3 linked regions of the Homo sapiens genome follow. The protein of the gene in region 1 interacts with the protein of each later gene in a pairwise test. Each region holds a gene or a part of one and is shown on either strand. Other genes may lie near its edges. The genes, in order: DDX54, ZNF394 and SEMA4A.

Region 1 (3,729 bases):
CCACCTCCCTGCTGTGTGCATGCGGGTAGGCCTGTCAGAGCCGTTCTCTCATCTGTGAAGCAGAGGTGATGACAGCCCTCCCTCTAGCACAGATGGACAAATGAGACAAGATGTGTCCAGGGCCCGGGAACCAGCAGGACTGCAGGTGGAGGCCCATAGTTGGAGGCCCACAGATGGAGGCCATGGTGATTGCTATTGTCTGTCCCATGCATTCCCATTCTAGGATGTATACAGAAATGTCCTGTGGGCGGCTGGGCACAGTGGCTCACGCCTGTAATTCCAGCACTTTGGGAGGCCGAGGCGGGCAGATCACCTGAGATCAGAAGTTCAAGACCAGCGTGGCCAACATGGTGAAACCCTGTCTCTACTAAAAATACAAAATTAGCTGGGCGTGGTTGTGTGTGCCTGCAGTCCCAGCTACTCGGGAGGCTGAGGCAGGAGAATCGCTTGAACCCAGGATGCGGAGGTTGTGGTGAGCCAAGATTGCACCACTGCACTCCAGCCTGGGCAACAAGAGCGAAACTCTGTCTCAATAAATAAATTAAAAATGTCCTGTGGGCTTGGTCTGAATGAGCCTCAGCCTCTCTTTCCCTCCGCTGCGCTCCCCTGAAAACTCATCAAGTATAGGGTCACACACTAGATGCCTGCAGGGGCTGGGCAGGCCACACTGACAGGAAGGGGAGGCAGGCAGGGGCTGCAGGGGACCAGGAAGCCTGTCTAATGGGGGTGCCACAGCTTAGCACCCAGATCCAACTGTTTCCCAGTAGATACCAGAAATCTGGATTGTTGTGGGAAATCCTGAGTTTAAAATAGAGGGATTAGCCAGGCATAGTGGCTTGCTTGAGCCCAGGAGTTGGAAGTTGCAGCGAGCCATGATCGCACCACTGCACTCCAGCCTGAGCAAGAGTAAGACCCCGTCTCGTTAAAAAATAGAAGGAATCAGCCGGGCGCAGTGACTCACACCTGTAATCCCAGCACTTTGGGAGGTGGGCGAATCACTTGAGGTCAGGAGTTCGAGATCAGCCTGGCCAACATGGTGAAACCTTGTCTCTACTAAAAATACAATAAAAAATTTGCCAGGCGTGGTGGCGGGCATCTATAGTCCCAGCTACTCGGGAGGCTGAGGCAAGAGAATGGCTTGAACCTGGGAGGCAGAGGTTGCTGTGAGCCAAGATCACACCACTGCACCCCAGCCTGGGCAACAGAGCGAGGCTCTGTCTCAAAAAATAAACAAAACAAATAAAATACAATAAAATAAATAAAAGGAATCATCTTCTGCTGGGGTCAAACCCAGCCCTACCTCCTCCCACAGCCAAAACAGGGCCCATGAACTCCACGGGGACCCCTATCCCCACCCAGCCTCCACTCACCTGAGGGCTCCTTGAGGGGTCGGGCGAGGGTGAGGGAGCGGCCCAGGAACAGGTGCAGATCCAGCAGGTAGGGGATTTCATCAGGGGCCACCAAGGAGTAGGCTGTGCCACTTCGGCCAGCCCGAGCCACACGGCCTGCAGCAAGGAGACGTTCAAGCTTAATTAAGCAAAGAAGGACCCGGACCCAGCATGAGTTCCACAGGCCAGACCCTGAGCAGGTGAGCCTGGCCAAGCCTCGAACCTCACACGGCTGCTGTCCCCACCTACGCACAGGGAAGTTTAATCCCGGTCCCTAGGTTGATCTGTGAGAGTGTGCCCAAGCTGACACAGTGCTCTGGGAGACTAGCAAAAATACAGCAAGGCCCTGCTCATGAGCATGATCAAAACTCTTCAGTGTCCCCACTTTTGAGAATTCCCCGCAAAGATGTAAAGATTCACACACAAGGAGGTTTAGTGTGGCCCTGACTAGGACAGCCCCAAGTTGGAAACTAAAGTCTCAAGGGTAGAGGACTAGATAAGTGAATTAGCTGATGGCCACACAGTGGGAATTAAACAGCTCAGGAAAAGAGTGGGCAAACTGCAGCCTACAGGGCCAGGCTGGTGGCTCACGCCTGTAATCACAGCACTTTGAGGGGCTGAGGTGGGAGAATCACTTGAGGCCAGGAGTTCGAGAACAGCCTGGGCAAAATAGCAAGACCCCATGTCTACAAAAAACGAAAATTAGCCAGATGTGATGGTGTGTGCCTGTAGCCCTAAGTACTTGGGAGGCTGAGCTGGGAGGATTGCTTGAATCTGGGAGTTCAAGCTTACAGTGAGCTATGATCATGCCACAGCACTAGAGCCCAAGCAACAGAGTGAGATCCCGGCCCCCTGCTTGTCTGTGTAAATAAAGATTTATTGGAACACAGCCACACTCATTTGTTTATATATTATCTATATAAATGAATAGGCAGCAGTCACACGACAGCAGCAGAGATGAACAGTTATGACAGAGACAGTATGGTCCACAAAGCCTAACGTTTCATGTCTAGCCCCTTACAGAAAAGATGTGCCAACCCATCACAGAATGACATTTCATAGTAAACGAAAAACATTCGTGATGTATGGTGATGTAAAAAGAAAAAAACAAAAAGCCAGTTATAAAAAAGAACACCCAATATGATTGCAATTTTGCATGAAGTACCTAAATCACTACATAGCATTATATTTTGGTTTGTCTCTGTATCTTGGGAAAACAAGGTGTTATGACATTTGGAGATTTCATTTGAGGTTGTCTGACCGGCACTGTTGGTCTTGTGAGGCACAAGAAATTCCCTTTGGGGGCGTCCTGGGGACCTCCCTAGGGACATGCAGAACCAGCTCTCCACACAGCAACAGAAACTAGGGGACAGCAGACAGCAACAAGGGGGAAGTGCACCCACCACATGACACTTATGAATTAAAAGAAGGCAAAGAAAGTAGAATAACAGTTACCAGGGGCTGCGGGAGGGGAATAAGGAGATTTTGTCTGACGGATAGAGCTTCAATTTTGCAAGATGGAAAAGTTCTGGGGCCAAGCATGGTGGCTCACGCCTGTAATCACAGCACTTTGGGAGGCTGAGGCAGATGCATCACTTGAGGTTAGGAGTTCAAGACCACCTTGGCCAACATGGTGAAACCCCTGTCTCTACTAAAAACACAAAAAATTAGCTGGGCCTGGTGGCGAGCACCTGTAATCCCAGCTACTCGGGAGGCTGATGCAAGAGAATAGCTAGAACCTGGGAGGTGAAGGTTGCAGTGAGCCGAGATCACACCCCTGCACTCCAGCCTGGGGTACAAAGCAAGACTCTCAAAAAAAAAAAAAAAAGTTTTGGGGACAGATGGTGGTGACAGTTGCACAATGGGAACAGACTCAATGCCACTCCACTGCACACTGGGAAATGGCAAAATGCTGAATTGCATGCTATGTCTACTTTACCACAACTTAAAATAGAAACATCAGAAGAATGGACACACACCAAAATGACGGCCATGTCATCAGAGAGCAATGGGGGACAGTGATCTCTGAAATGAGACCACAGCTGTTCCGTGACTTACGAAGGGCTGCGTCTCAATAAACCCAATAGCCGTCAAAAACACACGCACGGCACCTAACCCACTAAACATCGCAGCTCAGCCAGCCTGCCTTGAGCATGCTCCAAATACTTCCATTAGCCTACCCTTGGGCAAAATCATCCCACACATAGCCGATTTTAAAATAAAGTGTTGAGTATCTCATGTAACTTATTGAATACTGTACTGAAAGAAAAAAATAGAACAGCTGTATGGGTGCTATTGTAAAGTCAAAAAAACCATAAGCTGAATAATTGGGTTGTTTTTT
Region 2 (2,500 bases), on another chromosome or scaffold:
TTTATTAGAGATGGGGTTTCACCATGTTGGCCAGGATGGTCTCTATCTCTTGACCTCATGATCCGCTCGCCTCAGCCTCCCTATTTATTTATTTTGAGACAGAGTATTACTCTGTTGCTATTTATTTATTTTGAGATGGAGTCTCACTCTGTTGCCCAGGCTGGAGTGCAGTGGCATGATCTCGGCTCACTGCAACCTCTGCCACCTGGGTTCAAGTGATTCTCCTGCCTCAGCCTCCCAAGTAGCAGGGATTACAGGTGCTAATTTTGCTAGTTTTAGTAGAGACAGTGTTTCACCATATTGGCCAGGCTGGTCTTGAACTCCTGACCTCGTGATCCGCCTGCCTCGGCCTCCCAGACTTCTGGGATTACAGGCGTGAGCCACAGCACCCAGCCTATATTTTATTTTATCGTATCTTATTTTATTTTTGAGATGGAGTCTTGCTCTGTTGCCTAGGCTGGAGTGCAGTGGCATGATCTCAGCTCACTGCAACCTCTGCCTCCCAGGTTCAAGTGATTCTCCTGCCTCAGCCTCCCAAGTAGCTGGGATTACAGGCACCCACCACCACACCCGGCTAATTTTTTTGTATTTTTAGTGGGGACGAGGTTTCACCATCTTGGCCAGGATGGTCTCGAACTCCTCTGACCTTGTTATCCACCCCCCTCGGCCTTGCAAAGTGTTGCGATTACAGGCGTGAGCCACCACACCCAGCTATTTTATTTTTTTGAGATGGAGTTTCGCTCTTGTTGCCAAGGCTGGAGTGCAGTGGAGTGATCTCAGCTCACTGCAACCTCTGCCCCCCAGGTTCAAGCAATTCCCCTGCCTCAGCCTTGAGAGTAGCTGGGATTACAGGCAACGTGCCACCACACCCGGCTAATTTTTGTATTTTTAGTAGAGATGGGGTTTCACCATGTTGGTCAGGCTGGTCTCAAACTCCTGACCTCAGGTGATCCACCTGCCTTGGCCTCCCAAAGTGTTGGGATTACTGGCATGAGCCACTGCACCCAGCCTATTTATTTTATCTTTTTGAGACAGAGTCTCACTCTGTCACCCAGGTTGGAGTGCAATGGCGTGATCTCGGCTCACTGCAACCTCCACCTCCCAGGTTCAAGTGATTCTCCTGCCTCAGCCTTCTGAGTAGCTGTAATTACAGGTGCCCATTAACTGGCCTGGCTAATTTTTGTATTTTTAGTAGGTATTTTAGTAGGTATTATAGTAGGTATTTTAGTAGGTATTATAGTAGGTATTTTAGTAGGTATTATAGTAGGTATTTTAGTAGGTGTTTTAGTAGACGGGGTTTTACCATGTTGGCCAGGCTGGTCTCGAACTCCTGACCTCAAGTGATTCACCTGCCTCGGCCTCCCAAAGTGCTAGGGTTATAGGTGTGAGCTACCTCGGTCTCCCAAAGTGCTGGGATTACAGGTATGAGCCACCACACCCGGCACAAGGGAGCAATTTGAGCAAAGCCCTGAAACTTTGCTTCCTACAGAGTAGAGTAGAATATTCCAGGCAGAGCGGTCACATAGCACAAAGACCAGGAGGCAGCGGGGCCTGGCATATTTTGGAGCAGCAAGGCAGTGTGGCCAGAGCAGGCAAAGGGCAGCAGAAGGGATGGGTGGGTGAGCAGGGTGCCAGGGCCCCTGCACATCAGGCATCAGAGGTCCGGCTAATTTTTGGTATTTCTAGTAGAGACGGTGTTTCACTATGTTGGCCAAGCTGGTCTTGAACTCCTGACCTCATGATCTGCCCACCTCGGCCTCCCAAAGTGCTGAGATTTACAGGCCTGAGCTATCACGCCCGGCCAAAATGTATTACTATTTTTTTTATTAATTTTTTTTTTTAAAGAGATGGGGTCTCGCTATGTTGCCCAGGCTGGTCTTGAGCTCCTGACCTCAAACAATCCTCCCATCTGGGCCTCCCAAAGTGCTAGGATTACAGGTGTGAGCCACCGTACCCAGCCAACAGCAAATGTTGACAAGAATATGGAGAAAGAAAAATTATTAGTATTGCTGGTGGCATATACATTAGTTATGGGCTCTTTGGAGAGCAAGATGAACATACAGTTGTTCCCTCTTCTCTGTGGGGACACGTTCCAAGTCCCCCAGTGATGCCTGAAATTGTGTATAGTACCAAAGCCTATATATATATGTGTATATATATGTATATACATACATACGTGTGTGTGTGTGTGTGTGTGTGTGTGTGTGTGTGTATATATATATATATATATGTATATATATATATAAAATGTTTTTTCTTTTTTTTTTGAGACGGAGTCTTGCTCTGTCACCCAGGCTGGAGTGCTGGAGTGCAGTGGCACGATCTCGGCTCACTGCAACCTCCGCCTCCCAGGTTCAGGTTCACGCCATTCTCCCGCCTCAGCCTCCCGAGTAGCTGGGACTACAGGCGCCTGCCACCACGCCTGGCTAATTCTTTTTTCTGTATTTTTTAGTAGAGACAGGGTTTCACCGTGTTAGCCAGGATAGTCTCAATCTCCTGA
Region 3 (4,187 bases), on another chromosome or scaffold:
CTGATAGTGTGAACTATTCATATTGGCTAGAGGGGCTGGGGAAGAGGACGTCCGGAGTTGGGAGAATTCTGGATGTCTGGAGGAAGAACTGGGGGCAGGGCATGGAGTCTATGACTTCCAGAAAGGTGGGAATAGGACATCAGGCTGGGAGTGTAGGGCTGGAACTCCCCCAGCCTCCCCGTATCAGAACTCTTCCCAGTGACCCAAATGAGCCAATCTGTTTAAGCAGAGAGGCCCAGGGGCAGACTGGCTTCCCAAATCTGAGCTGGGGGTTGGGGAGACACAGAAGGTAGGGTCTGGATAAATGGGAGTTTCTCTTGATTCTAAGAAACTGGAAGGGACCTGGCAACCAGCCTCTGGGAGAGTCTGGGGGAGTCCTAGGCAAGTCTTGACAGAAACGATTGTCAGGCAGGATATGTCTGAGACCAACCCCCGGGGAAACTGAGAGAGATGAAAGAAGGCTGAGTACCTCAGATGAGGAATTATAAGGAGTAGCCTGAGCTGTAACATCCCCCATGTTGGCTGGTGCTGTAGCAGGAGGGATGGAAGTTACACTACAGGAAGGACTTCCTGCCAGGGAGGAATGTGCATGTCAGATGGAAGTGGATTATTTATTAGAGTTGGATTAGCCCTGGGATGTCTGTGCTCTTTAACCTGCAGTCAGCTGACCATGTCGAGTGGGCAGGAACCTACCCACTTTGTAGGCCACAGAGTTCTTGGCGCTGGATGCCTCATTAACCCCGCGTTATGAGGCTCCCCCTGGAGCCTTTAGGGAGGGGTGAGCAGCCACCTTTGGGGGTTGGGTGCCTCCAAAGTGTGGTCCAGTGAGCACGAGTTCAGATGGGAAATGTTCTGGGCTTTCTACTGGCCTGATTTCTGGGCTTCCTATTGGCCTGATGTCAAAGAGTGATGGAGATTAGACTGCAAGGGGGACTTCCTCAGCAAAATCATGGATAAGAGCCTAATACAATTATTTTATTTTATTTTTTTAAAGACTGTGGCCCAGCTGAGAGTGGGAGGTTTAAAGGTTAGACCACTGCAGGGACTTCCCAGTAGGTAGGAGTAGAGAGACCCCACCTTGTGGGTAAGTGAAAAGAAGAATATGTCATGTCCCCTATCTGGGAAATCTTAAGCAAGAGAAGAAACCACTGCTAGGCTGGTTATACTGGCTGTGACATGATGGAGAGGCAGGGGAATCGCTGAAATGACCTAGAAGGGCCTCTTAAACTTTCTGGTTGGACCGAGCAGAGGAGGGAGAGAGAGGTGTGTCTCTTGTGAGGTGGGTGAACGTCTTTTTATTCCCTCCCAATCCACCAACTTCCGCCCAAGCCAGGATCTGTCACAACTCGAGAGGTGGAAATTCCGGTTTCCCTGGCCTAGAGCTCCCAGTGCTGGCTTTGGCATGATGGGCACCTGGAGGGCCGCACTCCCGTTCCAGCCAGGCTGAGCCTTCTGTCCCCTGCCTCTGGGGCCTGGGAACCCCCCTTCTTCTTTCTCCTGAATGGCACCCCCGCCCTAGAATCCAGACACCGAGTTTCCCACTGTGGCTGGTTCAAGGGTATGTGAGGTGAGATGGGTGGCTTGGGGTGGGTGGTCTTGGGGAAGATTATGTAGAGGCCCAGGGAGGCAGACACAGGAGCAAGAGACAAGGGGGCCGGGGAGCTGCAGAGGCTGGGAGCCGGCCAGCCACCCCTGCCCAGGCAGCTCCCCGGGAAATGCTGATAACCAACCTGGTGGGATGGACCCTCATTGCCTCCCTGGAAGTATCAGGCCAGGCAGGCCTGAGCCTCAAAGACCCTGAACCCAGCTGGGGCTGGGGGAGAGGTTAGAGCAGGCAGACTCAAACCCAGTCTGCCTACCTGGGTCAGAGCTGAGTATGAGGCACAGGTGTCAACAGATCTGAAAGTGACAGGAGAGTAAGGTCTGAGGAATTTATATTTTGGGTACAGGAACCTGCTCCCCAAAATGTTCCCTGCCCAGAGCCAGGCAACGGTTTGGGCTTGGGCTATGAGAAGAGGGAAGGCAAAGGAGGAAAGACAGGAAAGACTTCCTGAGAGTAAGGCAAAAAAAGGCAAACCAGAGCTGTTGGTGAGAAGACAACAGAAGAAGCAGGATAGGGGAGACCTGGGCTCCTACCCATAGGGGACAGTGAGGTGACAGGCTGAGGCCTGGAAGGATGATGAAAGTGAGACCGTCTTAGGGCCCTTCCAGATAGGGAACCTTCTCTGCCCCAATGCCCCACCCCTGCCACCAATACACACGCTTCTGCTGCCTGGGGCTCTCCTATTGGTCCTCGGGGGGATGTGGTAAGAACTGCTCACCCAGAAAGTGCCCGGGTGCCTGTTTCCCCAGAGCTCCCTGGTGACAGTCTGTGGCTGAGCATGGCCCTCCCAGCCCTGGGCCTGGACCCCTGGAGCCTCCTGGGCCTTTTCCTCTTCCAACTGCTTCAGCTGCTGCTGCCGACGACGACCGCGGGGGGAGGCGGGCAGGGGCCCATGCCCAGGGTCAGATACTATGCAGGTAAGTGTCCGACAGCAGGAAGTGTGGGGATAGCAATAGAGAGCTGGAGGTGGGTGGAGGAAGGAGAGAGGAACAGAGGAGGGGAGGAAATGGATATGGAGAAACAGGGACACAGAGAGAGATGCCAGGGAGAAACAGAGGATCTCGGAGAAAGAGAGACACAGCCAGAAACAGAAGTCCAAAAGGAAAGAAAAGCCACTGGAGAGCAGATTGAGGAAAACAGGTGGCCACGGGGCCAGGGGCACGCTTCTTCCAGTTCTCCATGTTGGTAATTTTTCTTTCCTTCCTTAAATATCACTGTCACCAAGCTGGGCACCTCAAACTCCTAACTGCTTCACACTCCCAGGTACCCCAAAGTCAAGGCCCATGCTAGAAGACCATATGTGGACCCGGTGACCCGGAGCTCGCCAGGCCCATGCCAACCACATAGATCATGCTGGACCATACCATGTCCAGGACCATGGGATGGCTGGTTGGAGAATGGGCCCTGGAACCCACACACAAGCACAGCTTGGCTGGTTTCTTACTGAGACTGTGGAGGCTGCTGGCCCCCTCACCTCCAGGGAGAAGACTCAGGAAAGGATGTAGACACTGTAGGAGTTGTAGGTGACTGGGCATGGCTGTGTCTTTAGCATCTTTCTGGGGCAATTGGTAAAAGAAATGTATATTGCTCATTGATGCAGAGACCTCCTCTGTGTTGGATGCTGGGCGCACAAACACGGATAAGCCTCAGCCCCTGCCCTCAAGGTGTTCACAGTCACAAGGGGGAAGACATGAGCAATCAGACCATCAATACAGGGTGATCTGTTCAGCAACTGAGGGGTTTATGGCAGCTCTGGGGGAGGCCTGGCCTCCAGGAGATGCTCCTCCCTGAGGCTGGCCCTTCCATCCCGCAGCCACACCAGATTCCCCAACTTCTCCCCTCTGTACTGTGTAAGATTCCCTGAGCCTGCAAAGGTATCAATTAGCTAGTCAGCTTTCTAACTAATGCAACAGTGCAAGTGCTAATGAGAGAGGATCTGAGGAGCTCCTTCCTCCTTGCCGATGTGCCAGTGGGACAGGAAAATACACCCCCACCCACCCCACCATGCCAAGGTCATGGAGAGGACCTAGGTGAGCCTCCCACACCTGGCTCACCATCCCTGCCCAGGGGACATCCAGCCATGCCCACATGGATCTTTGAAGAAAAATGCTTCCTCTCTGTTCGTGGTGACTCTACTGGTGGGAATTTCCTTTAACAGAAGAGGAAGAAAGCAGGGGTGGTTGGGGGGATGGCGAGAGGGACTCTGACATACGCCCTCCTGTCTGCATATAGCTTTGCTGCTTGTGGCTGCCAACACTTTCCTGTTTGTCTGTCTGCCTGCTGCTCCTCATCCTAGTGAGGACCAAGGCGTCCTCCCCGACGGTAGCCCTCCCTGTCCCAGGCCTGGAAGAGCATCCACTGTGCCTCACTTTATTTCCCGTCCCCATTACCCTGCCTCTGGCTGCCTCTCCTCTCTACTGCGGGCTCAGCACACAACGCTCTTGTGTTGGGGTGGGGTGAAGGGAAGAACTGCTGGTGGAGGAGAGTGCATCTAGCTGCCAAGGCCTGGGGAGCACACTCAGGCAACCCTTCCCCTTCCCCCACTTTTATCTCAGGAGTCAGCTGCCTGCCCACCAAGTCCTCA

What was found.
Region 2: the proteins of DDX54 (region 1) and ZNF394 interact in a two-hybrid assay, tested with the Homo sapiens proteins (one large-scale study listed by BioGRID).
Region 3: the proteins of DDX54 (region 1) and SEMA4A interact in a two-hybrid assay, tested with the Homo sapiens proteins (one large-scale study listed by BioGRID and IntAct).

The regions. Positions count from the first base shown.
Region 1 is NC_000012.12:113,168,400-113,172,128, forward strand, and holds part of DDX54 (ATP-dependent RNA helicase DDX54), read right to left. Parts: intron 1,506-3,729; coding exon 1,371-1,505; intron 1-1,370.
Region 2 is NC_000007.14:99,494,912-99,497,411, forward strand, and holds part of ZNF394 (zinc finger protein 394), read right to left. Parts: intron 1-2,500. UniProt on the Homo sapiens protein: May be involved in transcriptional regulation.
Region 3 is NC_000001.11:156,152,198-156,156,384, forward strand, and holds the start of SEMA4A (semaphorin-4A isoform 1 precursor), read left to right. Parts: upstream 1-1,387; 5' UTR 1,388-1,567; intron 1,568-2,350; exon of another isoform or gene 2,351-2,352; 5' UTR 2,353-2,381; coding exon 2,382-2,520; intron 2,521-4,187. UniProt on the Homo sapiens protein: Cell surface receptor for PLXNB1, PLXNB2, PLXNB3 and PLXND1 that plays an important role in cell-cell signaling. Regulates glutamatergic and GABAergic synapse development.